7 linked regions of the Homo sapiens genome follow. The protein of the gene in region 2 purifies or fractionates together with the protein of the main gene of each other region. This does not show direct contact. Each region holds a gene or a part of one and is shown on either strand. Other genes may lie near its edges.

Evidence for each region.
Region 1: the proteins of VIPR2 (region 2) and SURF4 purify together in Homo sapiens (affinity purification with mass spectrometry; 2 studies listed by BioGRID and IntAct, with this or other methods). This does not show direct contact.
Region 3: the proteins of VIPR2 (region 2) and DNAAF5 purify together in Homo sapiens (co-immunoprecipitation; 3 studies listed by BioGRID and IntAct, with this or other methods). This does not show direct contact.
Region 4: the proteins of VIPR2 (region 2) and PIGN purify together in Homo sapiens (affinity purification with mass spectrometry; 2 studies listed by BioGRID and IntAct, with this or other methods). This does not show direct contact.
Region 5: the proteins of VIPR2 (region 2) and ELOVL2 purify together in Homo sapiens (affinity purification with mass spectrometry; 2 studies listed by BioGRID and IntAct, with this or other methods). This does not show direct contact.
Region 6: the proteins of VIPR2 (region 2) and RABGAP1L purify together in Homo sapiens (affinity purification with mass spectrometry; 2 studies listed by BioGRID and IntAct, with this or other methods). This does not show direct contact.
Region 7: the proteins of VIPR2 (region 2) and CIP2A purify together in Homo sapiens (co-immunoprecipitation; 3 studies listed by BioGRID and IntAct, with this or other methods). This does not show direct contact.

Annotation. Positions count from the first base shown.
Region 1 is NC_000009.12:133,365,746-133,370,189, reverse strand, and holds part of SURF4 (surfeit locus protein 4), read left to right. Parts: intron 1-2,646; coding exon of another isoform or gene 2,647-2,744; coding exon 2,745-2,931; intron 2,932-3,514; coding exon 3,515-3,591; intron 3,592-4,161; coding exon 4,162-4,205; intron 4,206-4,444. UniProt on the Homo sapiens protein: Endoplasmic reticulum cargo receptor that mediates the export of lipoproteins by recruiting cargos into COPII vesicles to facilitate their secretion.
Region 2 is NC_000007.14:159,109,942-159,114,385, reverse strand, and holds part of VIPR2 (vasoactive intestinal polypeptide receptor 2 isoform 1 precursor), read left to right. Parts: intron 1-4,444. UniProt on the Homo sapiens protein: G protein-coupled receptor activated by the neuropeptides vasoactive intestinal peptide (VIP) and pituitary adenylate cyclase-activating polypeptide (ADCYAP1/PACAP).
Region 3 is NC_000007.14:750,021-754,464, forward strand, and holds part of DNAAF5 (dynein axonemal assembly factor 5), read left to right. Parts: intron 1-4,444. UniProt on the Homo sapiens protein: Cytoplasmic protein involved in the delivery of the dynein machinery to the motile cilium.
Region 4 is NC_000018.10:62,102,613-62,107,056, reverse strand, and holds part of PIGN (GPI ethanolamine phosphate transferase 1), read left to right. Parts: coding exon 1-71; intron 72-175; coding exon 176-268; intron 269-1,422; coding exon 1,423-1,514; intron 1,515-4,154; coding exon 4,155-4,263; intron 4,264-4,444.
Region 5 is NC_000006.12:10,988,121-10,992,564, reverse strand, and holds part of ELOVL2 (very long chain fatty acid elongase 2), read left to right. Parts: intron 1-2,122; coding exon 2,123-2,247; intron 2,248-2,727; coding exon 2,728-2,862; intron 2,863-4,444.
Region 6 is NC_000001.11:174,277,398-174,281,841, forward strand, and holds part of RABGAP1L (rab GTPase-activating protein 1-like), read left to right. Parts: intron 1-1,215; coding exon 1,216-1,382; intron 1,383-4,444. UniProt on the Homo sapiens protein: GTP-hydrolysis activating protein (GAP) for small GTPase RAB22A, converting active RAB22A-GTP to the inactive form RAB22A-GDP. Plays a role in endocytosis and intracellular protein transport.
Region 7 is NC_000003.12:108,565,226-108,569,669, reverse strand, and holds part of CIP2A (protein CIP2A), read left to right. Parts: intron 1-62; coding exon 63-281; intron 282-1,355; coding exon 1,356-1,515; intron 1,516-3,031; coding exon 3,032-3,173; intron 3,174-4,215; coding exon 4,216-4,315; intron 4,316-4,444.

The sequences.
Region 1 (4,444 bases), on a different chromosome or scaffold from region 2:
TTCAAAGAGACTTTTAAACACTGCCTCAATCTCGTGGGCTGTGCACGTAGATGAGCATGTTAAATGCAGGTCCTGCAACTGGGGGAGGCTTAGACCGCAGCCCATGGCTGGGCTGGTTTGCTCATCTCAGGCCAGTGAGTGGCTCACAGCTCTCATTTTAGAAGCAAGTCAGAACACCTCTGGTGTCTGTCTTGGGTATGGATTGCAGTCTACCTCTCTGCTGCTGTTGGGGTCCACGCCCCACACCCACACCCTGCCCTGGGAGTCCCACCACGGCTCCGTCTCATCTCAGAGGTCTGGACAGCCTCCTGTTGAGCTCTTCCTTCCCAGTGGTTGCTTTTCCCCAGGTTCAGATGAGATAAAGGCTTGTGTCCTTGCTGGGGCTTCCCAGCTGGGCCACGATGTGAGGCCATTCCTTGAGAGCAGTGGCACATCGTGTGCCACGGTGGTGTGCTTTCTCTCTTCCATGGAATATGGGTGATTACACTGTTGCTGGGCATTTAGAGAGCAACGGGGCCATGAGGCAGAACCTGGGGAGGGTGTGTGGCGTCACCTTTCCCACCACCCAGTGTGATGCAGGTTGCGTCACACTGTGCACATGGGCATCTTGTGCTGGTTCTCTGCATTGGCCCTAAAATTCACAGGGGAGTATTTGGGGCCTTTTTAAAAATAAAAAGTGAAACAAGGTCTTCCTCCTAGTAAAGTTGGAAAGCATCTTACCAACCATTAGTTCAGGTGGCCTCACTCTACTGCAGGATAGTAGAGACACTCTCAAAAAAGTAACTGGGCGTGTCCAGGTCACACGGTGTGCTGGCTGGATGGTACCAGGGCAGGATGAGATCACAGGGCCTCAGAACCTCCACCTGCACTTCATCTCCCAAACCCACTTGGTGATTCTCTGGGTATCTGTCGGTCACTGTGATTTCTCCCATCACTTCCGTGGAGTCAAAGGCTGAGTAAATGTGTGCAGAACTGACACTGCAGGGCGCAGTGGGTTTGGGGAGAATGGCCACCTGGCTTTGTAATCTCTGCCTCCGTTCTCTGCCACATGGGAGCCAATCTGCAGTGCTGACCTAGTCAGGGCCCCACCTGACAGGCTGGAGGGTGACCTGAACACCCAGGGGCGTGGTAACTGAGATGGGCAGCTTCAGCAGTGTCTAGGACTTTGAAGCAACTTTTAAAAATGCTGAAAAATAAGAAACACGCATATCTTCCTTTGTTCCAACAGTAGGTTTAGTCAGCCCTAGGAGGCCTGTGCAGCTGACGTTCGCTCGCCTCCCGTGGGGGTCAGCCTCTCGGGTGCTCTTTAGACTCTGGCTTCCCAACATGCGTTGGTGGATGGGTCCCCTGATCTTTCTCCGAAGGACTTGCTGTGTTACAGTATTTCTTTCACTTTATATCTCAGTTTTGCATGGGTGATAAGAGAAAAGTGCATGGGGTGAACCTGCGTGACATTTGTACCTGGCATCCGATAGTGCATGTTGGCTACCTAACCCAGCCGTCATAAATGACCTGACTCACAGCACAGCAGGAAGTCATAAATGTTTTCTTTCCCTTTGACATTTGACAGTGATTTCACACACTTGCGTTTCATTGCTGTTGAAACAGCTGTCCATCCCATTTGTTAGTGTGTTTTAATTTGCTCGAGATTATGCAGGCTTTGACAAAATCCCAGCGCTTTCTAGCCATTAGCGGTACCAGCTTCATGCTGCGCTGACGGTTGCTGCACACACAGTCCCCACGTCAGATCCTGAGCTTGCAGGGGAGAGCTCCGTCGGGCTGGGAAGCGCCAGCCCTGGTTTGCAACAGCACACATGCGCTGTCCAGAGCCTGGGGCCTCCTCCTGCTGCTCTGGAGATTTTCGGATAACTGTAAACGTGATCTTACTATTCAGTCAACCATGTGGCCCTCTAGGTGTGGCACCCTGGCTGTCACCTAAGCCAACCCTTGTTCTGTCAGGGTACTCTGGGCGTCACTGGGCAGGCTGGGAGGTCCAGGCCCTTGGCACCTCAGCCATGTGTGACCTGCAGGCTGGGGTCAAGTCTTGGCATTGCACCATCAGGTCTGCGAAGCCTAGGGGAACCCCTTCCCGCTGGGTTTAATATAGCCATTTGTAAGGTGAGGGGTTGGACCAGAGCAGCGGAGATGCCTGGCAAAGTGCAGCGGTGCCTCAGGAGGGAGGCTGCTGCTGGCATGTCGTGGGCAGACATGTCGTGCGTCATAGCCTGCAGCACCCAGGATGACCCACGGCAAAGAGTGGCCTGGCCTCAGATGCCAGTAGTGCTGAGGTGCAGAAACGTTGGATAGATGACCTCTAAGTGCCTTTTCAGATGTCATTCTGTGATTCCAACTTGTAAATGCCTTTGACCGAAAAGAGCAGCTCTGTGTCTTGTGGCAGTGCCACCTTGGAAGACTGTAGTTGCCTGCCGAGGCACTGGGGGAAATCACGGTAGCAGAGTGTTAGGGCTGCTGCCCTATAGGATCTGCCCCAGAGGGCCTAACGTCAAGTCATGCATCTCCGGGACTGATCCTTGGATTGTTGCATGTGTCCAGACTCACAGGGTAGCGCTCAGGAGCAAGCACTGAGAGCCCCCTAGTCTGCCCTGGGAAGGCACCGGGGCTGACAAGAGCTCTTGCCTTCCACAGCGTCTGTTCCTCACACACCCCGCCCAAGGACGTGCCTGGCAGCGGCCTGGTGCTCCCCGCCGCAGCCACCTCACCCTTGGGTTTCTGTGGCCCTGCAGTTCCTCCGTGTCACAAAGCAGTACCTGCCCCACGTGGCGCGCCTCTGTCTGATCAGCACCTTCCTGGAGGACGGCATCCGTATGTGGTTCCAGTGGAGCGAGCAGCGCGACTACATCGACACCACCTGGAACTGCGGCTACCTGCTGGCCTCGTCCTTCGTCTTCCTCAACTTGCTGGGACAGCTGAGTGAGTGGCTCTGCGGGTGGTCAGGATTCACTGGGCGTCTTGTTCCATGATCGTTAGCAGTTGGGAGGCTGTGTGTGAACTCGGGGGTCTCCTGGACTGCTGTCCCCCCTCCATTCCCCTCTTCTCCAGCTCAGCTGTGCCAGGCCAGGAGTCCGGTTCTGCAAGCCTTGGTGGGGACGCTTAGTCTCTAGCCCTGAGCTCACTGCTTTAGAGCTTGCTAAGGAAATAGGACATGGTCCCTGTCAGGGACCCAAAGCAGGAGATGCTGGAGTCTGGCTGGCAGTCCACAGTAGAGCAGTTAATTGCCTACCTCAGGTGGGTGGCTGACTTGGGAGCTGATTGTGGGAAACAGCCCATTCTTTATGACGGCAAGGGCTCCACTTTCTGGTGTTTGTGATAAGTCTAGTCAGCTTACCATGTGTGGTCCTTGCCTATCATTAATTCTTCCAGAAGTTGTCTTTTGCTTGGGTAGGTGGTTTGGCTGCCTCTGGACCTAAGGGCCAGGTGAGGTAGCAGTGTATCAAGACAGTGCTCCCCGCCGGCACCCACCCTCAGGCCCCCTAACCCTTGTCCTTCTCTCCAGCTGGCTGCGTCCTGGTGTTGAGCAGGAACTTCGTGCAGTACGCCTGCTTCGGGCTCTTTGGAATCATAGCTCTGCAGGTACACGGGCCGCGTGGTCGGGGCTCCCTTCTCTTTGCTCTGGTGGAGCAGAGCTTCTGAAAAGACATCCTTGAGGGTTCAGTGTCACTCCCCCTTCAGCCCCCTGCATGTCTCTGACTGCCTGGAGCTCCTTTCTCTTCTGGGGAAGTCGTGAGCCCAAGCAGGGCTGTAGAGGCAGGTCATTCGGTACTGGGCCATCTTTTGTCCCATTTCTATGATTACCGTGACAAGGGAAGTCTCGAGCTTGGCTGCAGCCAGGATGCTGTCTTGTTATCACGTTGCTTCATAAAGAAGAATACTTGGTTATTCAGAATGAAATGCTGGGAACAGAATATCTGAATCCACATCAGTGGTCTCAGAATCACTTTGTTCTCTGGAACATCATAGCACATTTCTTGAGAAATACAGAACCACATTTTTGAGCTTAGATCTGTCCTCGGTCTCCTACAATGGTTTTGTGTGTTTTAGACTCCAGCTGACATTGGAGAGACGGCCTAATGTATTATGAAGTCTGTGGAAATGCCTTTGGAAAGGCTGAGACTCAAGTATCTCTCTCTTCTTTCCCCTCAGACGATTGCCTACAGCATTTTATGGGACTTGAAGTTTTTGATGAGGTATGTGCATTCTGGTTGGTTTTAGTATACGCTCCTTCTACAGGTTGAGCATTGCAAATCCAAAGTCTGAAATGCTCCAAAATGGGAAAAATCTTGGGCACCAACATGACGCTCAAAGGAAGTGCTCATTGGAGCATTTCAGGTTTTGGATTTTCAGATTTGGGATGCTCAGCCAATAAGTATATAATGCAAATATACCAAAATCTGAAACACTTTGGGTCCTAAGCATTTCAGGTTAG
Region 2 (4,444 bases):
ATCCTTTGTTTCATGAAATCTCAGCTGCCCACTGCTTTCCAAACAGACAGGCGTCTCCAAGTGGCTGTGCTTCTCTCGGGGGTGGCCCTGCCTGCCTCCCCTTCTCCTCCCATGCCGTCCTGTGCCTCGGCGCACACTCCTACAGAAGGACTTGCTGCCTCTCCCAAATTCGCTGCCTCTCCCAAAGGGTTCACTGTGCCAAATTTGAATCACTTATGTCCAACACTGAACTGATGACCTATTCATGCACTATTTTGCTTTGGCCTGCACAATGTTCCTTAAAAATGTAAACATTTAAAAATGGGTATCTTAATATAATGATACACTTTAAATGCTAGTTTTCAACAGAGTGCATTTATAAAATTGTAAAAGGCAAATGATACTACAAGGCTGTATGAAGATAATAGTCTCCGGCCCCTCGTCATCCCCAGTTCTCAGCCCTATGGCAGCATCTCTTTCATCTCTTCTCTGGTATTTATTTTATTTCTAAACAGCATACTTATGCTCCTGTTTCTTTTCTTTCTTCCTCCCAATTTACATCCCAGTGTCCATTAGATTTCTAACAAGAATAAAGATCTATCTCTCCTGTGCCATTCCCACCACCCAAGTATAATTTATCATCCTGCCAGCCTCCTGATAGACTCACTTCACATTGCTGGTGTACATCATTGCCATCACAGTTGAGCCACATAATATCCAGCATTTCCTTTCTTCATAACTTTATGCTTTTCCTCGTTTTTCTGTTGCTGGGTTTTTCACCTACCTCTCAATAATTAGGCATCAAACCTCAGGCCAGAACACTCTCAAGACACTGCACTGAGGTGGTCTCAGGGTTCCATTTTTTCTCTTGTAGCAGGACGAGCTGCAGACAAAACCCCTCAGACACCGAGATGGTGAAGGGAGTGGCTTTAATCAGCTGGAAGCATTGGCAGACTAGCGTCTTAAAATCCGAGCTTGTCAGGTGCACAATTTTTGTCCCTTTTAAGGGCTCACAACGCTAAGGGTTTCACATGAAAGGGTCATGATTGATTGAGCAAGCCAGGGGGTATGTGACAGGGGCTGCATGCACGGGTGGTCAGAGTGAAACAGAACAGACCGGGAAGTTTCACAGTGTCTTTCTATACAATGTCTGCAATCTATAGATAACATCAGTTGCTAGGTCAGGGGTCAAATTTTAACTACCAGGCTTAGGTCAGGCAGGTCCAGGCCTGGTGTCGGGTCTGGTTCCTAGGCGCTGGGCTACCTGCCTTTAGTTTCGCTTCTGTTTCCTTTTCTGAGTATAAAACAATCTAAAACAATGTGAGAGGGTCTGTCTCTCTTCTCTCACTCCTAGAGCCACTCCTTCTGGATTCCCCCTCCTTGCCAAGTCGGGATCCTTGAGCTGGGGTCTGGCCCCAGGCAGGCATTGTGAGCCTCCTGCTCACACAGTCGGGGTCCTCGGTTGGGGATCTGGCCCCAGGAAGGCGCCATGAGCCTCCTCCTCACGGTCAGGATCCGGTCCCAAGTAGGTCCCGTGAGTCTCCTCCTCACAGTCAGGGTCGGTCCCAGGTAGGCGCCGTGAGCCTCCTCTTCACAGTCGGGGCTCTCAGCCGGGTCCCGTCCCAGGCAGGCGCCATGAGCCTCCTTCTCACAGTCAGGGTCGGTCCCAGGTAGGCGCCGTGAGTCTCCTCCTCACAGTCAGGGTCGGTCCCAGGTAGGCGCCGTGAGCCGCCTCCTCACAGTCGGGGCTCTCGGCCGGGTCCCGTCGGTTCCCTGCAGCGTCCTCCACCCTTGCCGGTGCCGGGGGTACCGATGGCCTGTCTCTCGCTTCTCCCCCTCCTCTGCCTGCCTATTTAACACAGTTGCTTCTGTCTGCAAGGCTGTAGTGACATCTCTTGGTGCTGCCCTTTCAAATTTTTGGCTGTCCTTTGCGTGAGGTTGAGAAGCTGAGAGAGAAACTCCTGTGTTCCCGCCTGGCAGCTGTTGCCAGGAGGTTGCAGCCAGTGCCACGTGTGCGACCGGCACTGTGGCAGCGCTTCCGGCTGCGCCTTCGGCTGCACTTCCGGCTGCTACCTCAGCCTCGGCGCCCTGACGCCCTCGAGTCCGCTTCCTCACATCCTGACAGCGTCTAGCTCTGCTCCCTCACGTGCGGTCCAATAAAGGAACAAATGAAGAGAAGACTTTCCCTGGCCATTGAAGGGATCAGATGATTAGCTCTAGATGTTTAAATCAAATCCTACTGTAATGCAAAGACTGTTTGATGTGGTATGAATTTAGTATCTCTGTTGAAATTTAAAGCAGCAATTAGTATTATACAGTATATAATTATTGCATTATAATTTGTATTATGTATTAGTTATCTTACTATACATTATCTTATTTATTGTTTATTTATTGAGACGAGGTCTCGCTCTGTCGCCCGGGCTGGAGTGCGGTGCCATGATCTTTACTAACTGCAACCTCGACCTCCCAGGCTCAAGTGATCCTCCCACCTCAGCCTCCCTAGTAGCTGGGACTATAGGCATGCTCTGTTACCTCCAGCGAATTTTTAAATATTTTCTGTAGAGATGGGGTCTCGCTATGTTGCCCACGCTGGTCTTGAAGTCTTGGGCTCAAGGGATTATCCCGCCTCAGCCTGCCAAAGTGTTGAGATTACAAACATGAGTCACTACACCCAGCCCATTATTTTAAAATAACAATATTATATAATTATTGCTTTTTTTTTTTGAGACGGAATCTTGCTCTGTCACCCAGGCTGGAATGCAGTGATGCGATCTCGGCTCACTGCAACCTCCACCTTCTGGGTTCAAGCAATTCTCCTCCCTTAGCCTCCTGAGTAGCTGGGATTACAGGTGTGTACCACCACACCCGGCTAATTTTTGTATTTTTAGTAGAGACGGGGTTTCACCATGTTGGCCAGGCTGTTCTCACACTCCTGACCTCAAATGATCCACCAACCTCATCCTCCCAAAGCGCTGGGATTACAGGTGTGAGCCACCACACCCAGCCATTACTATTATCAAGGTAGAAATTTGTCATTTTGTGATAAAAAGCTGAACCTTCAAAATAACCAGACACGAAACTGCCAGAGCTTGCTGTTTTATAGGAGATGGACAGAACTTTGCTGATCACATGCAGAGTCTTCACTTGGAGGCCTAGACATCTTCACTTTCCTCTCCATCTTGTTCACTCTTGGCTAGGAACCCCATCCTGACACCTCTCCACCACCTGCCCTACACACCAGAGTTAGAAGTGCTTGGTTTACGAACTTAGCATTTAAATAACTCTACTACTTAGACTCTAAGCAGCCTTACACGGGGGCTCACGCCTGGAGTTTCTAGTGATGCATTTACATTTGATCACTTGTTTTGAACATTTTAAAAGAAAACCAACATTTTCTTTAAATATGTTAACATTAATGTAATATGAATTTATGTACTTATTCAAGTATTGGTATGTAATTTTATTTTATAATAAATATATTTTCACTTTTATTGAAAGTATTTAGAAACTATTTTCATCTGCAAAACTTAGCTTATGGCCAGCTTTTCAGAGACATTTCTGTATTCTTGAAAGTAAAACACTCCTTTGTTCACACCAAAGCTGTGTGTTCTCTATGGATGTATTCCTGCAATTATTGCACAGGTCTGGGTGGCATGTGCTGAAAGGAAAACTGATTGTTTGTTTGTTTGTTTGTTTGTTTGTTTGTTTTACCGACCAAGGCTAGCACATTGCTTTTCTGATACTGAGGTTTAAGTAAAAGGTAAAATTTTAGAGGTCTCAAATATAGTATAAATACCATGGACAAGTAGGAAAGTCCTGGGTTTAACATGCATTCCATCACTGTTGTGTGATATTGAGAATTCATTAAAAGATTTGAACCTTAGTGCTTTTCATCTGGAAGATAATTAATGCAACATTTTTATATCTAACCTTCACCAGGTGGTTATTAAGACCAAATAGTAGGTCTAAAAATGTTTAAGCTATGCATTATGCAAATTATTTGACAACTCCATGAAGGTAACCTAAGATTTTGTTGCTAATAAGGCATCTTGACAGTGAAAAATCAAACAAATATTATCAAATACTTTTATTTGCAAATAATCATTGAAGTCAGATTCCACAGAAGCACAAGCACACTTTCCCTGGGCGTCTCCCTCCCCGACGGGGCCTTACACTAATACCCAGTGGTGCCCATTTCATCACACTAGGAAATGCTGATCACAAGAAGTAAGTAATGATTCTCTTAAAATTCAGAAGGTACATGGTATACATTGAAGTACTCAAATGCTTTCTACCACCATATGGTTATTCCTCCAAAGCTAATTGAGATGAACCCACAAGCTAACTATAGTCTCAATAATTGTGTTGGTGCAAGTGTGTTTCACAGGAAAGGAGTTTGCGAGGCAGTTATCTCATTAATGGGGTTTCTATTTGTGACACTTCTGTCACCTTGCACCTGCCT
Region 3 (4,444 bases), about 160 Mb from region 2:
ATAGAAAAACAGGCTTCAGAACCATGTTCAGAAGCATGTGCTGAGTAACAGCGTTTGAGTCCATAAGGACCACGTGGAGGAGGGTGGTCCCCTCTGATAGTAACATTGTGTTTCTCCTTTTTCTGTGTTTGGAAACACTCACTCACTGTCTGTGCTACAGTTTCTGCGTGTTGAGTGCAGTCACCTGCTGCACAGGTTCGTGGCCTAGGAGCCTCACAGGCTATATCGCACAGCCCAGGCATCGCACAGCCAGGCACGTAGGAGGCTGCGCCATCTAGGCTTGTGTACGTCACTGTAGTACGTTCACACGGCAACGAAATCACCCAATGACGTGTTTCCCAGAACGCACCCCCCACCGTTCAGCAACGCTTGACTGTACCAGCGGTCCCCTGCCATTTTGGCACCAGGGACTGGTTTTGTGGAAGACAATTTTTCCATGGGTGGGGCAGGGAGCAGGGTGGTTTCAGGTTGAAATTGTTCTACCTCAGATCATGAGGCATTCAATTCTCATAAGGAGCACGTAACCCAGGTCCCTCACACGCACAGTTCACAGGAGGGTTTGCCCTCCCCTGAGAATCTCATGCCGCCACTGATCTGACAGGAGGTGGAGCTCAGGCGGTCACACTCCTTCACCATCTGCTCACCTCCTGCTGTGGGGCCCAGTTCCTAACAGGCCTTAAACCAGTCCCAGCCTGTGTCCAGGCCTTGCGTACCCCTGCCCAGCACCGGCCAGTATTTCTTTGGAAACACCCAGAAGCCCAGGTGCCCACAAAGCTCTGTTCAGCTGTCAGCAGACCCCTCCCCGGCTGTTCCTGGTCACGCATCTCTCATTTTGCAAACTTTCCAGAGCGGATCGTCATCAGGAAGAAAGGTGCAGCTGGGCGTGGTGGCGCATGCCTGTAATACTGAGGTCAAGAGTTCAAGACCAGGCTGGCCAACATGGTGAAACCCCATCTCTACTAAAAATACAAAACTTAGCCAGGTGTGGTGGCATGCACCTGTAGTACCAGCTACTCAGGAGGCTGAGACATGAGAATGGAGAATTGCCTGAACTCAGGAGGTGAAGGTTGCAGTGAGCTGAGATCGCACCATTGCACTCCAGCCTGGATGACAGAGCGAGACTGCATTTCAAAAAAAAACGAAGAGAGGTGTGTTTGCACCCTGGCTTTTTTGTTTTTTACAAAATGATGACAGGATCATTTAAACAGCCAGCAGAATTTTAATTATTTGGAACTAATTCCATAATACAGGATAAAAACAGAAAAATAACCAGAAAAAGGTTAAAAATGGGGTGTCCTGGTACAAGCTGTTCTTATTAAAACATACCCTTTAGCCTGGATGCAGTGGCTCACACCTGTAATCTTAGCACTTTGAGAGGCCGAGGCAGGAGGGTTACTTAAGCCCAGAAGGTCAGTGCTGCAGTGAGCTGTGATCGTACCACTGCACTCCAGCCTGGGTGACAGAGTGAGACCCTTTCTCTAAAAATAGAAAAAGACCCTTTAAATCCTGACATATCATGGTTTCATTTCTATCTTTACAGTTGTTCTGAATTTTTTTTTTTTTTTTTTTTTGAGATGGAGTCTCACTCTGTCGCCCAGGCTGGAGTGCAGTGGTGTAATCTTGGCTCACTGCAACCCCCACCTCCTGGGTTCAAGTGATTCTGCTGCCTCAGCCTCTGAGTAGCTGGGATTACAGGCGCTCGCCAGCACGACCGGCTTATTTTTTCTATTTTTAGTAGAGACGGGGTTTCACCATGTTAGTCAGGGTGGTCTTGAACTCCTGACCTCAGGTGACCCGCCTGCCTTGGCCTCGCAAAGTGCTGGGATTACAGGCATGAGCCACCGTGCCCGGCCTGAATTTTGAAGATCAGAATCTTTTCATCAAAGTCCCTGAAGGCTTTTCTGTAGAAATCGACAAACTGATTGTGAAATTCTCGTGGGCGTGCAAAGGACCCACAGCTGCCGAAACACTGGGGAGGAGTGAAGCTGAATGGCAGCAGGTCCTGGGTGCAAGACTCACAAAACCACAGTCATGGGGCCACGTGGTGTTGGCTTTCAGACCGATGAGCAGAACGAGAGCGTCCAGAAACAGGCGCCCGCACGCGGACCACTGACTTGATGAAGGCTCAAAGACCATTTAATGGCATCTTTTAATAAGGATACTGTAAATGATAGGATCACTCATACACCAGAAAGTGAACTTGGAGTCAAAAAATTAACCCCAGATGCGTCAGGGATCTGAAGGTAAAGCCCAGAACCGCAGAGCTAGGGCGAAGCCTTTGTGACAGTGGGCCGGGCCACACTTCGTGGGATACGTCCTCAAAAGACCGCAGAGTGATGACGAAGCCTTTGTCACCGCGGGCCGGGCCACGCTTCCCTGGGTGCATCCTCAAAAGACTGCAGAGTGACGACGAAGCCTTCGTGACCACGGGCCGGGCCACACTTCGCGGGATACGTCCTCAAAAGACCACAGAGTGATGACGAAGCCTTTGTCACCGCGGGCCGGGCCACGCTTCCCTGGGTGCATCCTCAAAAGACTGCAGAGTGACGACGAAGCCTTCGTGACCGCGGGCCAGGCCACGCTTCCCTGGGTGCATCCTCAAAAGACCGCAGAGCTAGGACGAAGGCTTCGTGACCGTGGGCCGGGCCACGCTTCCCTGGGTGCGTCCTCAAAAGACCGCTCTGTAACAGGGTAAAGCAATGTGTGGACTTCATCAAAATGAACACTTCTGCTTTTTCAAAGGCCTGTTGAAAAAACGAAAAGACAAACCAAAGACTGAGATGTTTGGAGATGATGTATGTAAGGATTTATCTCCAGAGTATAGGAAGAGCTCTTGAAACTCAGCAGGAAAACAATCCATTTTTTTAAATGGGCAGAAAACAATTTGGAAAGACCCTTTACCAGGGAAGATAGGCGGCAAACAAGCCTGTGAAGAAGACGCTCGGCGTCGTTAGTCATCGGGGAATGCAAAGGAAAAGCACACGGAAATGCCACTGTGCCTCTCGGACTGCTTTCAATTCAAGACTGAGCGTACCGCGTGCCGCTGAGAGTGGGAAGGAGCGCGGACTGGCTCAAACACTTTGGAAAATGGTTGGACAGTTTCTAAAACAGTTAAACGTGCACCTTCCCTGTGGCCCAGCCCTTCCACAGCTGGTATTTGTCCCGGCACAGTGAAAGCCCAGGCCACACAGACTTGCCCTGGACACCATTTGAATGCTTCTCCACAGAGGAGCGGGCACTAAACTGGCATCTCCCCAGAACAGGCCACTTCCCAGGTTCAGAAAGGAGCGGGCACAGGCGGGCCTCAGAAAACGATGCAGAGTGAAAGAAGCGGAGAAGGGAGGAGAGTGAACGAGAGGCTTCCACTTGTGTCAGGCTCTAGAAAGTGCAGCTCAGTCACGGGACAGATCCAGGGGTGCCGGGGTGCCTTGGGGGCTGCAGTGCAGAGGAGCAGAGGAAGCCGGGCGAAGGACGCAGCTGTCACCCCCACCATGCCGATGGCTTCGCAGCCGTGTCTCTCATATGGCGATGGCTTCGAAGGCATGTCTCTCTGATCATATGGGGACGGCTTCACAGACGTGTCTCTCATCATATGGGGACGGCTTCACAGGCGTATCTCTGTCATCATATGGCGATGGCTTCGCAGGCTTGTCTCTCTGATCATATGGGGACGGCTTCGCAGGCGTGTCTCTCTCATATGGGGACGGCTTCGCAGGCGTGTCTCTCTGATCATATGGCGACGGCTTCGCAGGCGTGTCTCTCTCATCATATGGCGATGGCTTCGCAGGCGTGTCTCTCTCATCATATGGGGATGGCTTCGCAGGCGTGTCTCTCTGATCATATGGCGACGGCTTCGCAGGCGTCTCTCTCTCATCATATGGCGATGGCTTCGCAGGCGTGTGTCTCTCTGATCATATGGGGACGGCTTCGCAGGCGTGTCTCTCTCATCATATGGCGATGGCTTCGCAGGCGTGTGTCTCTCTGATCATAGGGGGACGGCTTCGCAGGCGTGTCTCTCATCATATGGCGATGGCTTCGCAGGCGTGTGTCTCTCTGATCATAGGGGGACGGCTTCGCAGGCGTGTCTCTCTGATCATACACGTCAGCACGTGTGGCAAGTGTGTTGTTTGCATCTCTGTGTGGCTCTAAATGTTTGTTTTTTGAGACAGGGTCTCGCTCTGTCACCCAGGCTGGAGTGCTGTGGCGCAATCCTCCCACCTCAGACTCCTGCGTAGCTGGGACCACAGGCATGCACCACGGCACCTGGCTAATCTTCCTGTTTTTTATAGAGATGGGGTCTTTGCCATGTTGCCCAGGCTGGTCTTGACTTCCTGGGCTCTAGTGATCCACCTGCCTTGGCCTCCACAGGGCTAGGACTGCAGCCGTGCACCGCCTCTGTGAATGTTCTGAACGACGGGGCATTTGTCAGCTTTGCGTCCACCCC
Region 4 (4,444 bases), on a different chromosome or scaffold from region 2:
CAGTGTTGACCTATCCTCTGAGCCATTTTGTTGGGTACCTGTTAGCCTTTACCCTGGGAATTGAAGTATTAGTAAGTAACTTACCAGATTACAACATTTGCAAATTTCTTTTATATATTTGTAACTAGTATTAAATGACCTTATTTTTCATTCCTTCTTTGGAATGCATTACTAGGTTCTCAGTTTTTTCTACCGCTATATGCTTACCGCTGGACTTACTGCCTTTGCAGCTTGGCCATTTCTCACTCGGCTGTGGACTCGAGCAAAGGTATGAGTACTCATTTTGACATAGGACAGATTAGTAACTACTTTGTTTTGACACATGTGTAACTCAAGGAACTGTTTATTTTTAAAGAAAAGGGTAGAATGTGTTCTTACATAAAAGAGCCTAGTCATATTGATAGGAGGACTGACATTACCTGTAAGGTTTCAGTAATTCACTTAGACTTTCACATCAAAATGGGCCAGTTATGTGGTAATTGAAATGCTATATAAGTTGTACTGATATGTCCATCTCTGAAGCATTTCCTGGATTTGTTTAGCTTCAAATATCTTGATAATGGACCAGGCAAGGAGTCGTCCAGAGCAGCACAGCCCAGTGGCTTAGGGGTCTGCACTCTGTGAGTCACAGGAAACACCTCCCTCGTTACCCTGAGCCACTCAGTTTTTTTTTTTTCTGGATAAGTATGTATTTATTATAGATTATTAAAAATATAGTCAGTCTTGATTTTCTTCCTTCAGCTACATAGGGAATTACAATGTGCTTCTACAAAGAATGCACTTATATTTCCACTTTGATACTTTTTGATAGAAGTAGCAGGAAGATATCTTCTTTCTACTCTGAGAATTTATTAAAAAATCTTCAATGAATGGGATTATCGATCTTTTAATTTGTGAGGGATCTTAATCTAATTACAAAAGTAGTTTTACTTATTTTCCTTCTGGGCTCAGTTGTTTGGTGATTATTGTAGGCCACCTTTTTTATAGATGTCTTCATCAATATATGGTCTAACCTAAATTGAATGAAGCACTTTATGCAGGTTTAAATACTGGTTATTTTATTTACTTGTCATGGACCTGGTACTACTTATATTTTAACTTCTCTGAGCTCTGTTTCATCATCTGATGTATTGGGAATGATAATACCTGCCTCTTGAGGTTATTGTGAGAATTAAATGAGAAAGTGCTCATATTATACCTAATACTATACCTGCTATGCAACAGGTCCTTCACAAATAGTAACTATTACTTTTTAAAGTAGTTAGCTGTTGATTCTGCTAGAAAGTATTTGAAAAATAAAATAATAAACAGCTGTAAGGCTTTGCATTTTCCTTTTACCTTCACAGTCATATAGTCTGTGAAACACTAATGATAGTTTTCTATACCATATTTGTCTAAAGATAACTTTTTTCTTGATTTTAGATGACCTCACTGAGTTGGACTTTCTTCTCTTTGCTCCTGGCAGTGTTCCCACTGATGCCGGTTGTAGGTCGAAAGCCAGACATCTCTCTAGTGTATGAATAATATTGTATTTTATTCTATTTTCAATACACTTTTTTTTCCTCAATTAACACTGTAAAATTTGAACCTAATCTTGGTCAAGAATATAAAATCATGTGAACTAACGGGAATTTAAAATACCAATATCAAACCATTAGTCATGATTTTGGCCTAGGTTCTAAGAGTCATTAAACCTCCTAGTAGGTGCTTTCGGGCTTTCATAATGAAATTGTGCCACTGATAACTTAAAATCCCGCCCATTTTTTTTTGTTTAAGTCTAGAAGGTTTTCTTTCTTTTATGCTTGGAGGAATCAGTAAAAGTTTTAGTTTCATGTGAAAAAACATTCTGTTGCCAAAACAAAAATGTCTCAAAGCTACTGTGTTAGCCCTCTTTGCTTTAATCATGTCCACACTAAAATGTCATGTAAAAATTAAATTTTCTGCTATTCTAAATTGAATGTAAAGATCTCCATGGGAGGAAACTCTATTCACCTTGCCAGCTTTCCCATGTTTAACCACTCAAATTGTTTGAAAATTCTTCTGCATATCTTACCTAAATTCCTTACTGTGCTGCTATATTTATTTCTCTTCAATAGACCTAAATAAATTTATAAAATAACTGGTTACCTTTGCTTTTAACTGCACTTTATTGTCAAGTAAATTATGGGCTGTTTGAGTGTGCATATGATCATTATTTCATTTAACATTTCCTCTCTTATTGTCTAATCATGGGAATTAGAAATTAAATCATCTTTGTTACTTTCTTCAGAATGCTATAAGCATTTTTTAAAACATTCTAACCAAGTCTGTAATGGATAATGGTATATATTTTTAAATCAAGGAAGATTAACTAAATACTATTTTGTAAAAATATGTGCTGATTTATGAGATTCTATACATTTTCTCCTATTTGTATGAGAATACCAATATGCAATAGACCAGGAAATATCCCAGGAAGTCACTTTATTAGCAGAGCTCAAAATAATTGTATTGAATTCTAACACCATACTATCTAAGCCATACTTTATTAGAGTGTTACTAGGTAAAAACATTTTGCAACTGTCATAACCTATAAATAGTATATGACAAAATGAATTCCAATATTTTCATTTATTTCTTGCTTCAGATAGCTCTGTAAGCTCTTGTATTGTTTCTATAAAGCCCCTTTCCTTCCCTTTGTCAGTCTCTGCCTATCAGTCCTGCTCAAGCAGTATTGCCATAGTTGAGCAGAATTTATCATATGCTAAAAGGGAAGGAAATTGTATAAATTTGCCACTTGCGTATTCTACTAAAGATGAATGTGGGAAGCAAATAAACTTGTTAAAATATGAGAAATCTAATTTATATTTTAGAAAATTATATTGTTTCCCTCTAAATTTAAATTGCTCAGTGACTTTAAGTTTATCCTACTAGCTATATTTGCAACTTATTTATTTTGATTCCTGGTTCATGGGGAAATTTCTACTCTCCTTTTCATCTGTCACAGCATCTCCCTTCTTCAGAAAATCACAAAGATGTGATTTTGTGAAACATTTAAGGATACAATTAAAGGAAAAAGCAAACGTGTACAACATGGTTGTGATGTCTGTTACTCCAGTGTTCTAAAGTAAAAACATATTTGCCAATAAGTTTAGATACCAAATTATTTTAAAAATTAAGAAAGAGAAAAAAAGCAAAGAATCTTGATCATATGTGACTATTTTTTCCTAAATTTTAATGATAATCCATGTTGAATATATGATTACCTTTCTCCTTAGGATTCTCAAAGAGTGTATTTGAAGCATCACAACCAACCATCAAGCATTTTTCTGGGGATTCCTGCTTTGCATTCTTCTTAGGTGTCCAGCTCTGCTTTTTGCTCTTTCTTTTTTCTCTTCAACCAATTCCTTTTCTCTTAGTTCTATTTGGGTTCTGGATTTCATCCTCAGCATAATTCTGGCTGTGCTATGTTATTCAGATGTTAAGGAGGTGAGAAAGAGCTCAACAATAGGGCACCATTTCCTTGGTATCAGTCACCTTTGACTTTAGGAAACATACTATACCTGGTGTGTTTCCTTACTGTTATTTCATTACTGTACAAATGCCTCACCTGCATGCCACCCATGTGACCACTGCCTACCCCTTCCCTCAGCCAGGAGCAGCTGAGGAAAATACCAAGGTCTGTCACAGAAGGGAGCTGTTTTTCCTGCTAGAAATAATGTGGGTTATATATGTAGATACTTTTTGCATGAGTAAGTTTCATAATCACAAAATACATGTTGTAGATACTGATAATATACTTGTTTAGCTATCTTTTATATTGTAAATTTTTGTAAATTTGCCCAATTCAGGCTAAATATTATAGTATTTGATATGCCTAAAATTTTTTTAAATTAAATTATAGAAGCAAGGTAGAGATACTTAGAAAATTGTGGGGAGAGGTTACAAATAACCCCATCCAGCAGTATCTTTATCCTAAGATTAAAAGTTTTCTTAAAATCTTAAAACTTAAAAGTTTTCTTAAAAATCTGAAAATGTACCCATTTTGCTACTTCCTCTTGATTAAGCCAAATGACTGAGAGGTTCTGTATTAGAGTAAGATGTCTCATATTTCCATCTGATATGTGTTCGTAAATATCTGAAGAAAATTTAAAATTAATTGTATTTCAAAACAGGATGGGTGCAGGCTTGCTGGTTCTTCTGTTATCCCTGTGTGTTGTAACATCTCTCATGAAAAGAAAAGATAGCTTTATAAAGGAAGAGCTATTGGTACATCTGTTACAGGTCAGTTACAGATTTTCAATACTATGTTATACTAATGATATACTGAAATGTGTCTTATGGTTATATTTAATTATGTTCATAAAATGCCATTACCTTTATGCTACTTAGTATCTGCCAGCTGAGAAGAAAGCTTTCATTTAAGATGCTACATGGAAATGTGTTCTTTAAGAGGTATGAAATA
Region 5 (4,444 bases), on a different chromosome or scaffold from region 2:
CCCGCCTCGGCCTCCCAAAGTGCTGGGATTACAGGCGTGAGCCACCACGCCCGGCCTAATCCTGTTTTACAAAGAGTTGATGACAATTCTCACTGCATTGACTTCACCATTCACTAATGGGTCAGTTATGACCTACAGTTTGAGATGCACTGAGCTATAGGGAACAGTACTCTCTATTTGATACTGTCTTGTTCTCAAGAATTTAGAAATACAATATGAAAAATCAGAACATGTAAAACTTCAGTCAAAATGACTTTGTTCCAGGATTTAGGATCTTGTAGAGATGATATTAGGGAAAAAAGTGCCCAGAGATATTTGGAGTATCAGTGACTGTGAAGGTACAAATGAACACTAGAGTGAGGGAGGAAATTGCTGTGAGTGCAGGGGGAAGAAAGAAAGAATTGATCTCTGTCCTTCTAGACGGGTAGACATCCATTTCTTGAGTTTAGTTATTAAGGAAGGACAACTATAATCAATATTAGAGGAGAATTACCAAGGTTAAGTATTTTTATGATTGTCAAGTTTCATTACAAATCACTAAGCATCTAAAACCCAAATCATCACTGTGTACAGACATAGTCCTGTAAATACTGTGACAATTTCTGCTTAAGAATATTAGAAAAATGATACTTTGACCTACCAGAGCAGACTTTCAATTTTTTGAAATGCCTTAATCTGTATCACAGTGAAATGGTGACTGTGGAAGGTGCTGTATTTCCACAGGAGTCAAACATAAGCAACAACTACTCATGGTTCATTAATTGATGGAAATGAAAAGTCATGTAGGTAAAGAAATACCACTAATACTATGCTGCTTGGTAGTCTGAAACTCTGTTTGTGTTTTCATATAAATTCAAGCGCCGTAACAGTTTATTTCAGCCAGTATTGGTTGAGAATTTACTCTATGCATGCTATTGTACCTTTTGTTTCTTATTTATTAATTTGCATTTAGCTATCCAGATCACTAATCTAGGATTAAAGAACCAGGCTAGGGAATTTAAATTGATTTATTAGCCAGCATATGTGCGGTGCTTTTAAATTCATATATTATCTCAGTTAATTTCATCCCAAACTTAAGAGCTAGTTATTATTATTATACCTATTTTCCAGGTAAGAAAATAAAAATTTACGTCAAATCAATGTCTCCAAGGGGACATAGCCAATAAATGGCCCTCTAATGCCACAATCCCTCCCACCACAGGATAGCTCGCAGAACAGCCATCTGGATCCCAGGCTGACAGCTGAAGAGCATTCACTTTGTGCCAAGCATTGTTCTAAGCACTTTCATGTACTGATGAAATCCTCACAACACTGAGTTTCCTTATTTCCAACAAGTGATGCATCTGTGGCATCTCACCTCTTGCAGCTAAATCCTTTCAATGCTTAGCTGACCCAGCATGGTACATGACCCTTTCTCCATGGTTTCCTGAAGCCTTATTCACCTATGGTGGAGGCAGTTACAGAGACGTTTCATGAGGTTGATGGCAGGGGCCTGGATTTTAGACATCCCTCATCCTAAAAGTCTCTGCAATGGCCAATCACTGGGAAGGTCTCGCTGGCCAGTTTCTCCGCCACTCCAGCCTTCTCTGTCTCCTTTATTCTTTCTCCAGCACCTCCCGGTCCCTAAGTGTCTTTCAGGCAGAATTTATTTACTTAATTATGAAAGCAATATATTTTGTCTCTCTAGCACCCTGTTCAGCCATGTACAAAAGGCTCTTTGTCAATATGTCTTATCAAAGGTTTAGCTAAAAAGCAAAGACAATTCTATTTCAGAGGAATTCTGCCAACAGCTTTAAGCTAGTATTTCTTTTCCTCCCTCAGTAGCTGATAGTAGTGACGGTTAAAGAGACAGTAAAACCTCGTAGATAAGGTGTTCCCCTGTGTGGCGGGGGGGGGGCATTCTGAAAAACCATCCCAGGCTACTCCTTCTATCATGGAGTTTTTGGTGAATCCTAGAACTGGCACAGTAATTGGGGAATTTATTAGTGTGGATTTTGTTATATGATCATGTCATATGTGCTACTCATTTTCAATTACCATGCAGAGAGAGAATCTCACTTGACAAAGAAGAATGAACAGTCCTTCCTGGAAGAATAGTGATTTTTATACTGTACTTTTATAGGTTTCTTTGGACCAACACTGAACAGTTTTATCCACATTCTTATGTACTCCTACTATGGACTTTCTGTGTTTCCATCTATGCACAAGTATCTTTGGTGGAAGAAATATCTCACACAGGCTCAGCTGGTATGTTGTCCCTTCTTTTAGCTTTTCTCCATGTGGCTTATGGATGGGGAAAGGAAATAGAAATCTTAGAAGTCAGAGGGCTTTTTATGTGTGATGAGGCTGCCCATTTTTTTTCCAAAATTGGCCTTTTAAGAATTAAACTTTTTGTGTTGAAATGCCCTTTGTGCATGCTATTAGCTTATAATGGAAAGTTCCTTGCTTTGAAATGTAGATGATTACTTTTCAAATTAATGTGTAAGTTAAATCCTTTTTGTCTAAATAATTTTAACTGCGACTTTTCCATGAGGAAATCATGGGCAATTTCACATACTAATTTCAAATAAGATTTCTGGATGAGGGGGCTGCTTCAGCAGCTTTGTTTTGTTCCTACATAATTCCAAGAGTCCTAGGAGTTGATTTCTGAATTGATCAAGCTTGGCCGCAGTGTCTGTGTGGCACAGCCTGGCTCGCTCACAGAGATGCCCTCTCTGCCGTCCCCAGGTGCAGTTCGTGCTCACCATCACGCACACCATGAGCGCCGTCGTGAAACCGTGTGGCTTCCCCTTCGGTTGTCTCATCTTCCAGTCATCTTATATGCTAACGTTAGTCATCCTCTTCTTAAATTTTTACGTTCAGGTACGTGGAATGTAAATATTCAGCAGTAAAATGTAATCGATTGGCACTATTTTTTTTTTTTTGGAGACAGAGTTTCGCTCTTATTGCCCAGGCTGGAGTGCAGTGGCATGATCTCAGCTCACTGCAACCTCCGCCTTCTGGGTTCAAGTGATTCTCCTGCCTCAGCCTCTCAAGTAGTTGGGATTAGAGGCCCGGCTAATTGTTGTATTTTTAGTACAGATGGGGTTTCGCCATGTTGGCCAGGCTGGTCTTGAACTCCTGACCTCAGGTGATCTGCCTGCCTTGGCTTCCCAAAGTGCTGGGATTATAGGCGTGAGCCACTATGCCCAGCCTAGATCATGCACTTTTACATTACATATTTGTTTAATTTTACTGATTAAATATTATAGTAGCACATGCTTGTTGATAAATTCAGGTAGCAGATACACAAAGTGAAATTTGCACTCCTAACTCCTCTCTCCACACCCTCCTCCTCAAAGGGTAACCACAGTTAATAATCTAGTGGGCATTTTTAAAAACATTTTTCAATGCATACACATAAGGTTTTATCAAAAATATCATTGGATTATATATACAGTTCTCAATTTGCAGTATGTATTTGTACCATGCTACCAAAGTCTGACATCTGAAAGTTAAAAACGTGTATAGTAAGACAGATCCAGGAAATGTGAATGGAGCAAAGCAAGGGCTTCTTCAATGTTTTTAATTTATTGAATTTCATGTTTAAAAATTGGTTCCTTATCAGCTACCCTGATGTTGCAGCCTCACTGTTTGTTTGGGAACCAGGATGGAAAGGCCGCACCGACGTCTTTATCCAGTGTCATTTTCTTTTTAGTTAACAACTTAAATGGAAGACAGCTTCAAAATGCAGTTTCAAAGCCACTCTGTTGTACAAGAACGGATGAAAGCTATAACAGAGAAGAGGCCTCAGGTGGATGTAGATTTTAAATTGCTCTCTTTTGTAGGCTGGGGAAATGGAAAGCTTAGTTTAAAAAACAAAGTACATTTATATTCAAAACTATACTTTTGAAATTGTATTCAACTGTATTTTTTTCAGACTAATAAGAAGTGCTTTACTTTTTAGTTTGCACTTGCTGAAAGTTAACCCATAGTGGTTTTTATTTTTATTTATTTTTTTGAAACAGAGTTTTGCTCTTATTGCCCAGGCTGGAGTGCAATGGCGCAGTCTCGGCTCAACACAACCTCTGCTTCCTGGGTTCAAGTGATTCTCCTGCCTCAGCCTCCCAAGTAGCTGGGATTACAGGCGTGTGCCACCACGCCTGGCTAATCTTGTATTTTTAGTAGAGATGGGGTTTCTCCATGTTGTTCAGGCTGGTCTTGAACTCCTGACCTCAGGTGATCCGCCCACCTTGGCCTCCCAGAGTGCTGGGATTACAGGTGTGAACCACCACACACATCCCCATAGTGGTTTTATACAGTGTGGAACAGTGGAAACTGAATTTTGACAGCTTTTCAGGTCTTGTATTTCTGAAATTGGACTAGGCTGTTTTAAGAGATAAAGGTTTCCTTTGAAGATTTCCAAAGAAATAATCAATGATGAGACCAAACAAAGCTATGTGTG
Region 6 (4,444 bases), on a different chromosome or scaffold from region 2:
GCATATCAAGTTATAAAAATAGTTTTTATGTTTTTAATGTAACACCTAGTTTAGTTTTATTTTGCAATAAAATATATATTTGGTCCACAAAAGAAAATTTATTTATAATTTATTCTATTAAACTATATAATAGTATATTATAATATTCTGATTCAAAGTATACATTTTAAATTTAACATTATCTCATATGCCACACAAAAATGTTGCCCTGATTTTTAAAATTTCTAAATTATGTCCTTGAAATTACACATTACTCAGAGAATGTGTGATCAAATAAAGTTTGATTTTTATGGAAGAAGTTTAGAACCTGAGAGATGAAAAGTCTTGGATCTTTCCACTGCACTAAGATCCAGTTGAATGTTATATTCTGTCTTGTGTTATTACTCCTTACTCCTTTCTCTAAGGTCCTCCAGGTCAAGTATAATGTCTAACAAATTTTAGTTTCTCTTGAATTGGCAGGTGTATTTAGTAAGACTGTATTTAGTAAGAATGTAATAAAATTGTTATTGAATTTGAGAAGTAGTTGATGAATCTGAATGTTATATAATATTTAAAAACACTATTGAGGGTTTCTTCTAGTGGTGGCCTTGGTTATTTGGACTTTCCTTTAACAGAGAACTAAAAATTGTAAAGAAAATAAATTTTAAAAAATATTTAAAAAGGAATGAGGAAATTACAAAATGGTATGGAATGACCAGGCCATAGATTCAAAAACCTCAATGAGGCCAGGTGTGGTGGCTCACGCTTGTAATCCCAGCACTTTGGGAGGCTGATGGGGGTGGATCACCAGAGGTCAGGAGTTTGAGACCAGCCTGGCCAACATGGTGAAACCCCGTCTGTAGTAAAAATATTTTAAAAATCAGCTGGGTGTTGTGGCGGGCACCTGTAATCCCAGCTACTTGGGAGGCTGAGGCAGGAGAATTGCTTGAGCCCTGGAGGCGGAGGTTGCAGTGAGCCAAGATCGCTCCATTGTACTCCAGCCTGGGTGAGACTCTGTCTCAAAACAACAAACACTTAGGATTATTAGTTCCTAAGAAACATGCTTGGAGTACTTGCATACTTATTTAATCAAAATGTGAATAGAACAGTTAAAAATAAACATAGAAGGTATTACAATTGTAAAGAACTTTAATTCTTTCATAAGTGAGGAAACTTTGTTTAAAGTAGACAAGGAATAATAAAGCTCGCATAAAACCCAGAAAATTTCTACTACAGATAAGCAAGTATACATGACTGTGGCAGTGGATATGGTAGTCACAGAGGTGGTGGAGCCTGTTCGCTTTCTCCTGGAGACAGTAGTCCGTGTGTACCCTGCAAATGAGCGATTTTGGTATTTCAGCAGAAAGACTTTCACAGAGACTTTCTTCATGAGATTGAAACAGGTAGGACCTTTTTGTTCTCTTCATATATAGTAACAAACATTTTTCTTTCCACACTTCTTTTTTAATGCCAAGATAATTCCTGAAGTTGCAAAACAATACAATTCCTCAAAGAAATCAAATGATATTTGAAGTCAACCAATAGAGTGTTTGAAAAAGTCACATCTAGGTAATATTAGCTAAAAAAACCCAGCAAGTTTAATAATTACATACTTTTTCCCTAGAAACCTGTAATGTATGAACCTTCTTAACAGAAATATTGACTGCATATAAAACAACGTTTCTGCCTTTTATAAACAATTACTTAAAACCAAAAAGGCAGTGCACAGAAATATCATATGCTTATAAAATTTTAATGAAAATGTTTCTAAGAAATACCTAATTTCTATAGTTATTTCTGCCTGTAATATTAGATAGACAATATTATATGAACATCTTGTTTGACTCATCAGTGAGGTTATAAAATTATTTTAATATTAAATGAACAAAATTATGGTTTCTATGATATCCTCAAATTAGGCAGTATTAGTAGATAAAATATGTAACTTTTGTATTATAGCAAAGGAAGCAGATAATAATGAAAAATAACTTGAATGCTAATTGTGTGAGTTTTTAAAAAATCAGGATAAAAATGCTCTATTAGAATAATGAACATCTTTTATATGCTGTTTTTGTTAGTACTTTCATTCTCCCAAGTTTTAAAATGCTTGCTGCTTCATATACTATAATATGTGGACTGCTGTGTGATAAAAGCAGGCACCAGTACAGGAAACAAATATAGAAGCCTCTTACCCATTTTCATATTAAAAAAACTGCCATGGCGCATCTCGGCTTTATATACTATGTACTTGGAAATTATTGTGGTTTTAAAAAAATCTTTCATAAAATTATTATGGCTGTTATTTGACTCAGTTTTTATTACTGTGTGAACTGCTTTTATAGCATATTCTAATGAAGGTTATGTGAGCAATATTCAAACTTCAGTCTCCTGAGCATCTTTTAATATTTTATTATGAGACTTTTTTCCTGTCTTCCTTCCTCCCCATCCTTCTTTTTTAAAAAAATAGCTTAGTTATGACTATCCAATAATTCTTCATTTTGAGCCAAAGAATTATTCATAGTTGCATAATCGTGAATAAAGGAGCTGGAGCTGTATAGAAAGTTGTCATTCTTCTAATGATGATAAATTATAATGTAAATTATACCTCCTAGAGATCTGAGAAAATGTTAGGTTTTTCCCAGTTCTAGTACTTTTGACTGTCTGTCTGCCTGGAGAGAGAGAGAGAGAGAGAGAGAGAGAGAGAGAGAGAGAGAGACATTAAAGTAATTGTTAAAATTCATGTAAGTAATTATTGCAAGACCTGAGACTATAACTCCTTACCTTAAGCCAGAATATGCTGCTGTAAGGCCAGACTAGCTTCTTTCTACACCTCCAAAAGGTGGGTTGGTTTGGGGTGGTTGATGGTAATCTGGAGATGTTGGTCTACACTATACAACATTGGTAGAAAGAATGAATTAGGTGATTACCTAATGCAATTCAAAGTAACCTTTGAAAATCTGGGTCCAGGCCATTACTACTTTAAAGAAATAAAGAGAGAATGCATTGATTTCAGTTCTAAGTGATTTAGACACCTAGAACTTTTTCTTTCATTCTGAGAGTGTTGAACTTATTGAATGAAACCAGAACTTGTCCTGTACCCAGACAGGATTAGACCAGACTCCTGGGGGCAACACCAAAGTACATGAGATGCCCTGTTCCCAAACTATTTTTTCTTGGCAACTTTCTTCTCTCAAATATAGCAGAACTTTATGTGTGGGCAGTGGGGATGTATGAAAGTCTGCTTTGTTCCTGTTTACTGTCCACTCAGGGCCAAATGGCATTTCATTTCATTCATTGTCCATTTACTGGGAGCAAGGAGAGCACTTAACAAGAGGATGGAAACTAGAGTCTGGGAAAGTAAACTAGAGGCTGGGAAAGTAAACTAGAGAAAGTCCTTTTGTGTCCGGAATTGGTTCCTTTCAGTGGGTTCTTGGTCTTGCTGACTTCAAGAATGAAGCCGCGGACCCTTGCGGTGAGTGTTACAGTTCTTAAAGATGGTGTGTCCAGAGTTTGTTCCTTCAGATGTACAGATGTGTCTGGAGTTTCTTCCTTCTGGTGGGTTAATGGTCTCACTGACTTCAAGAGTGAAGCCGCAGACCTTTGCAGTGAGTGTTACAGCTCTTAAAGGTGGCGTGTCTGGAGTTGTTTGATCCTCCCGGTGGGTTCGTGATCTTGCTGGCTTCAGGAGTGAAGCTGCAGACCTTCGCGGTGAGTGTTACAGCTCATAAAGGTAGTGCGGACCCAAAGAGTGAGCAACAGCAAGATTTACTGTGAAGAGCAAAAGAACAAAGCTTCCACAGAGTGGAAGAGGACCCGAGCGGGTTGCTGCTGCTGGCTTAGGTGGCCAGCTTTTATTCCCTTATTTGGCCCAGCCTGCGCCCTGCTGATTGGTCCATTTTACAGAGCACTGATTGGTCCATTTTACAGAGCGCTGATTGGTCCATTTTACAGAGTGCTGATTGGCCTGTTTTTACAGAGTGCTGTTTGGTGTGTTTACAAACCATTAGCTAGACACAGAGCACTGACTGGTGCGTTTTTACAGAGTGCTGATTGGTGTGTTTACAAACCTTTAGCTAGACAGAGTGCTGATTGGTGCGTTTACGCTCCTTTAGCTGGACAGAAAAGTTCTCCAAGTCCCACCCGACCCAGAAGCCCAGCCGGATTCGCCTCTCACCTTGACCTGAGTCTAAGGGGAGTAGACATTAATTAGGTGTAAGTGGGAAACACCAAGTATAAATGCCCAGAGAACTAGAAAGACTGGGAAGCACAGTAGCTGATGATGAAAGGCAAGTAGGCCCCTGGCCATGTGAAACTTTGGAGTCCACGTTCAGAGTTCTTTTCTAAATCAACTTTATTGAGGTAGTTAGCATACAGTAATATGCACCCATTTAATAGTACATTTTGATGAGTTTTGACAAATTTATACACATGAATAATTACCACCAAAATTAAGATCCCTCACTCT
Region 7 (4,444 bases), on a different chromosome or scaffold from region 2:
ACTTGCTTTGTATATTAAAGTTCTGTGAAATTGATGTTTAATGAACACTTTATATTGCACAGGTTTTAGAATTACTTCTTGCCTTCTGTTCAGTGACTCAGCTGCGCCATATGCTCACTCAGATGATGTTTGAACAGTCTCCACCTGGCAGCGCCACTCTGGGAAGCCATACTAAATGTTTAGAACCTACTGTGGCTCTACTGCGCTGGTTAAGCCAACCTTTGGACGGATCAGAAAACTGTTCTGTTTTAGCATTGGAGTTGTTCAAGGAAATATTTGAGGTAATAGGATGACTGACAGATTGACTTTTCTACTTTTGTGACTCTCAGTTAACAATTTGTCTTCAAAAACATTCTTTGTAAACTTACAGTTCATACACTTGAGGAAAACATCTCAATTACTAACAGTCATACTAGACTCGCTAGGTTTTTTTCTGCCAGTCATATATATTAGTGTTTTCCTTTTTTTTCACTGAGTAGTGTGTATGTATATATATATATAGTGCTCATTTCAGTGTAATAAGTAAAGATATTAAAAAGATTTATATAATTTGTTGCCTGACTACTGGGGATAGTTACATTGTCTCTCCATTGCAATAGATGCCATCTACCAAGTTTAGTAGGCCATTGAATGGACAATAGAGGCATATTGGATTCAGTCAGTGAAATGGAGTAGAGCATGCCAGATAATGTGCTAGGCACTTAAGATACAGACAAAACTCCACATTCTGGTAGATCTTACTATCTGGGCAATTTAATATTCTCTACTATTCTCCCTGTTTATAAATCCATTCTGTCTAACCCAATATCTCCTGAAAGTATTTCCCTTCACATAACTGGGTCTTACACACAAACAAATATGTGTATGAAGTGATTAAATATGTTCATTAAGAATTATTCACAAAATTTTCTATTTTATCTTGGTCTTGATTATTTAACAATCAGTTTTAACATTTAAAAAGCCCTTTGAGGGTCTTGAGGGAAATTATTTGTGGTCATAAACTATTAAGACCAATGTCTATTATTTAATTATTGTTATTACTTTTAGCAGATTCAGGATATTTGTTTTCAGTAGATACTTTTAGTTTAGAATAATTTTTAAATCACAAAGTCTGTTTAAAAAAGTCTTATTTGTAAAACCTTACTGTCTAATTTGAGAAAAAAGCCATAGCCCTCAAAACTGGTTAGAAGTATAAATTTTAAATAAAAATTTAAATATTCACAGGAGACTTAGGTCAATGGCATATTGAAGGAAATATAAAAAATTTAAAGAGAGTGTTACAATTCAGTGATGACTTTTTCTGTATTGTATATTCCATCTTTGCTTTTAATCATTTGTGATGGATAATTCTCCAGGATGTCATAGATGCTGCTAACTGTTCCTCGGCTGATCGTTTTGTGACCCTTCTGCTGCCTACAATCCTTGATCAACTTCAGTTCACAGAACAAAATCTAGATGAGGCTTTAACAAGAAAAAAATGTGAAAGGATTGCCAAGGCCATTGAAGTTTTGTTAAATATCCTTTACTGTCATTAACGTGAAAACTGTATAACTAACCATTCTTTTTTTTCTAGTATTGCATTCACTGCATTTTGTCTTTATTTGTAATTTGTCACTTTATGCTCATATTTATCTAGAATTACTGAACTAAAATTTGAACTGTAGAAAAAATTCTCAATGAGTGAAAAAGATCCATGATTTTTTTTCCTTATTTTTCTGTGTGAAACTTTTAAGTTAAAGTACATTTTTTAAAATGCTGTTTAAGCTTGATTTTGACACTTGTATCACAATTTGACATTTGGTGGTAAATTCTAAAATGACTATTCTGTTACTCCATGTTACTGTTTTCTGCTTGATGCTAATTATTTCCCCTGGACGGACGATCAGTAGTGCCATTTTTTGGTGATGTGTATTCGTGGATAAAGAAATGCTGATAGAGTTGTCATGATTTTAGCTCAGTTGTTTTACCTTATGTTTTAAAAATAAAGCCTTCATAATTGCTTTAATAATGGTTATAAGAAAAGACAAGTATATCAACACAAATTCATTCATTTAAAAAGAAACCTTTTAGTTTCACTGCTTAACTTCTATATACTGATTTTCTAGGTCTTCCTTGTGTTTACTTTTTCATAGACCAACTAATTCTGAGTTGCTGGAAGTCCCAATTTTAAAATATTTCATTAATACTTTTTTACTATGAGCAAAGAGCCACTGTATCTCAACCAGATCTCTTAAATGTATCTAGTCAGGTTTCCTTGTATCTCAGAGCAACAAGAATATGTTCTACTCTGTCCTAGAGCAAACTCCACCCCTGTTTAATATCCTCTTCTAAGGTACTGCTCCTTAATTTTCTTCCTTTAAAGCAGTGACTTTCAACCCTGATTTCCTACCTAAAATCACCTGGAGAACATGTAAAAAAAAAAAGAAAATCGATGCCAGAACCTTACTTCAAGAGTTTCTAATTTAATTGGAGTGATGTGAAACCCTGAAATCATTAGGTGGTGTGTGTTTGCATGTTGGCTTTTTTGTTTGTGATTGTTTAAACTACCTGGTTGATTCTAACATGCAGCTAAAGTTGAGAACCACTGCAGTAGGGATACATGATTGCTTGACCTTGGAGATATTTATAATTAATAAAGTGGGGCCTTCTCATTGAATTGGACCACAACTTTTAAAATAATAGCTATTTACATTAATTTATAATATACAAATATGACAAAACAACTTACCCTTATTCAATAAATATTTATTGAACCATTGAGATTCTTGCTAACAAAAAACAGACATCCAATGGAAAGATATCCTCGCTGTTTTAACCATTGAGTCAGAAACCTTTGGTGCCAGTCCATCTCTTACCACTTGCTAGTCATTTAAATTGTGTGAGTTTCAGTTTCCTTGTTTGTCATTGAGCTAATTTAACAATAATTATACTGGATGACAGTGATGATATAATTTGTATGAAATCATCCTGAATGTTATCTTTTACACATAAAGTGAGAATTTTTTTGTTGTATATCTTAACAAAACTTAACCTCTCTGTGGAGATGATACACTAAAAATGCATATTGCAAAAATCTTGACAACTGTCAAGTGTACCACTCTTATAGAACAACAATTTACATATGGCAAGATTGACCTGGGATTTGGAACAAAGGTTGCAGATTCTGAATTATGGTGAGTATATAAACTCTAATGACAAAATGGCAAGGCAGTAAAAAATCGAAAGATGTGGTGATTCTCATCCTTTTGGAGGACCATCCTTTGGTTATAACTTAAGATATAACAGATTAACAAACATATTTTCATAATGAATTTTTTGTAAATTCATTCAATTTGTAGATTGTGTGCTTTTTGAAGAAAGGTATTAACATTTGTTGTTTTTTATTGTTTAGGTTTGTTTTGTCTTGTTTTAACTTACTATAATTATCTAAGGGTTCTGAACATTTCTGGAGCTCCTTTTTGACATTGCCTCAGTAATCAATTTTACTTTTTTAAATGAAAAGCATGAAAAAACAGAAGAGTAGTTTTATTACAAGGAAATCAGTCACTGCTAAAGGCTTTTTAATAACAGACAACTCTCCTTCCTTGGCAGGTCAGGAATTATGGTTAAAGGTGGATTTTCACTGATGGTAATAAGATATTACTTTATACCCCTTCCCTCCTCATGAATTAAGTCCATCTAATCTTTACTGAGGACCTGCTGAGTGGTAGACACTATGATTTGTTTCTGTTTCCACAGATGTCACAATTGTCAGTAATTGTGGACCTTTAGAGTAAGAATTATCTGTTTTTATATTTGTATACTACTTTCAGGTACAAAACTCAGAACATGACCTAGTGTAATTCATTCATTACGTATTAGATATTCTATATTGCCTAAGGTTACCGTCTGTTGTTGATATTCTAGTGACAAAGCTAAGAATTAAATGAACTGTGTTTCGAAACTACTACTTACTTGAAACAGAAAGTTGAAGCAGGTTGGTAGTAAAAGAAACACTGTCTAAACTAAGGCTATTAATGCCAGTTTGTTCTCTTTGGATCTTGAGTTATAAGAATGTTGATTGAGATTTTTACTTCTCAATAGAAACAGGACTTTATCATCTTGAATTTAAAAAACACAAGTGTTGGTTTTTTTCATTTTCTTTAGAATTTTGGACAGAAACAAGCTCTAAGAAATTTTTCAGTTATCTAATTTAAATGTGATTTATCTTTAAAGCAAACTTGCTGCTGATGTAATTTTGAAAACTCTTGATTTGATTAACAAACTTAAACCATTGGTTCCTGGTATGGAAGTAAGCTTCTACAAAATACTTCAGGTGAGTTTAAACTCTTCAAACATTGAAGTTTATTCATACATAAATGGTCCTAATATAAGTTTCTGTTTTAATATTCTTAATCTTTAGAAGATAATTCTCTTAGAATTGGCAATGAGAAGAAAGTTTAAA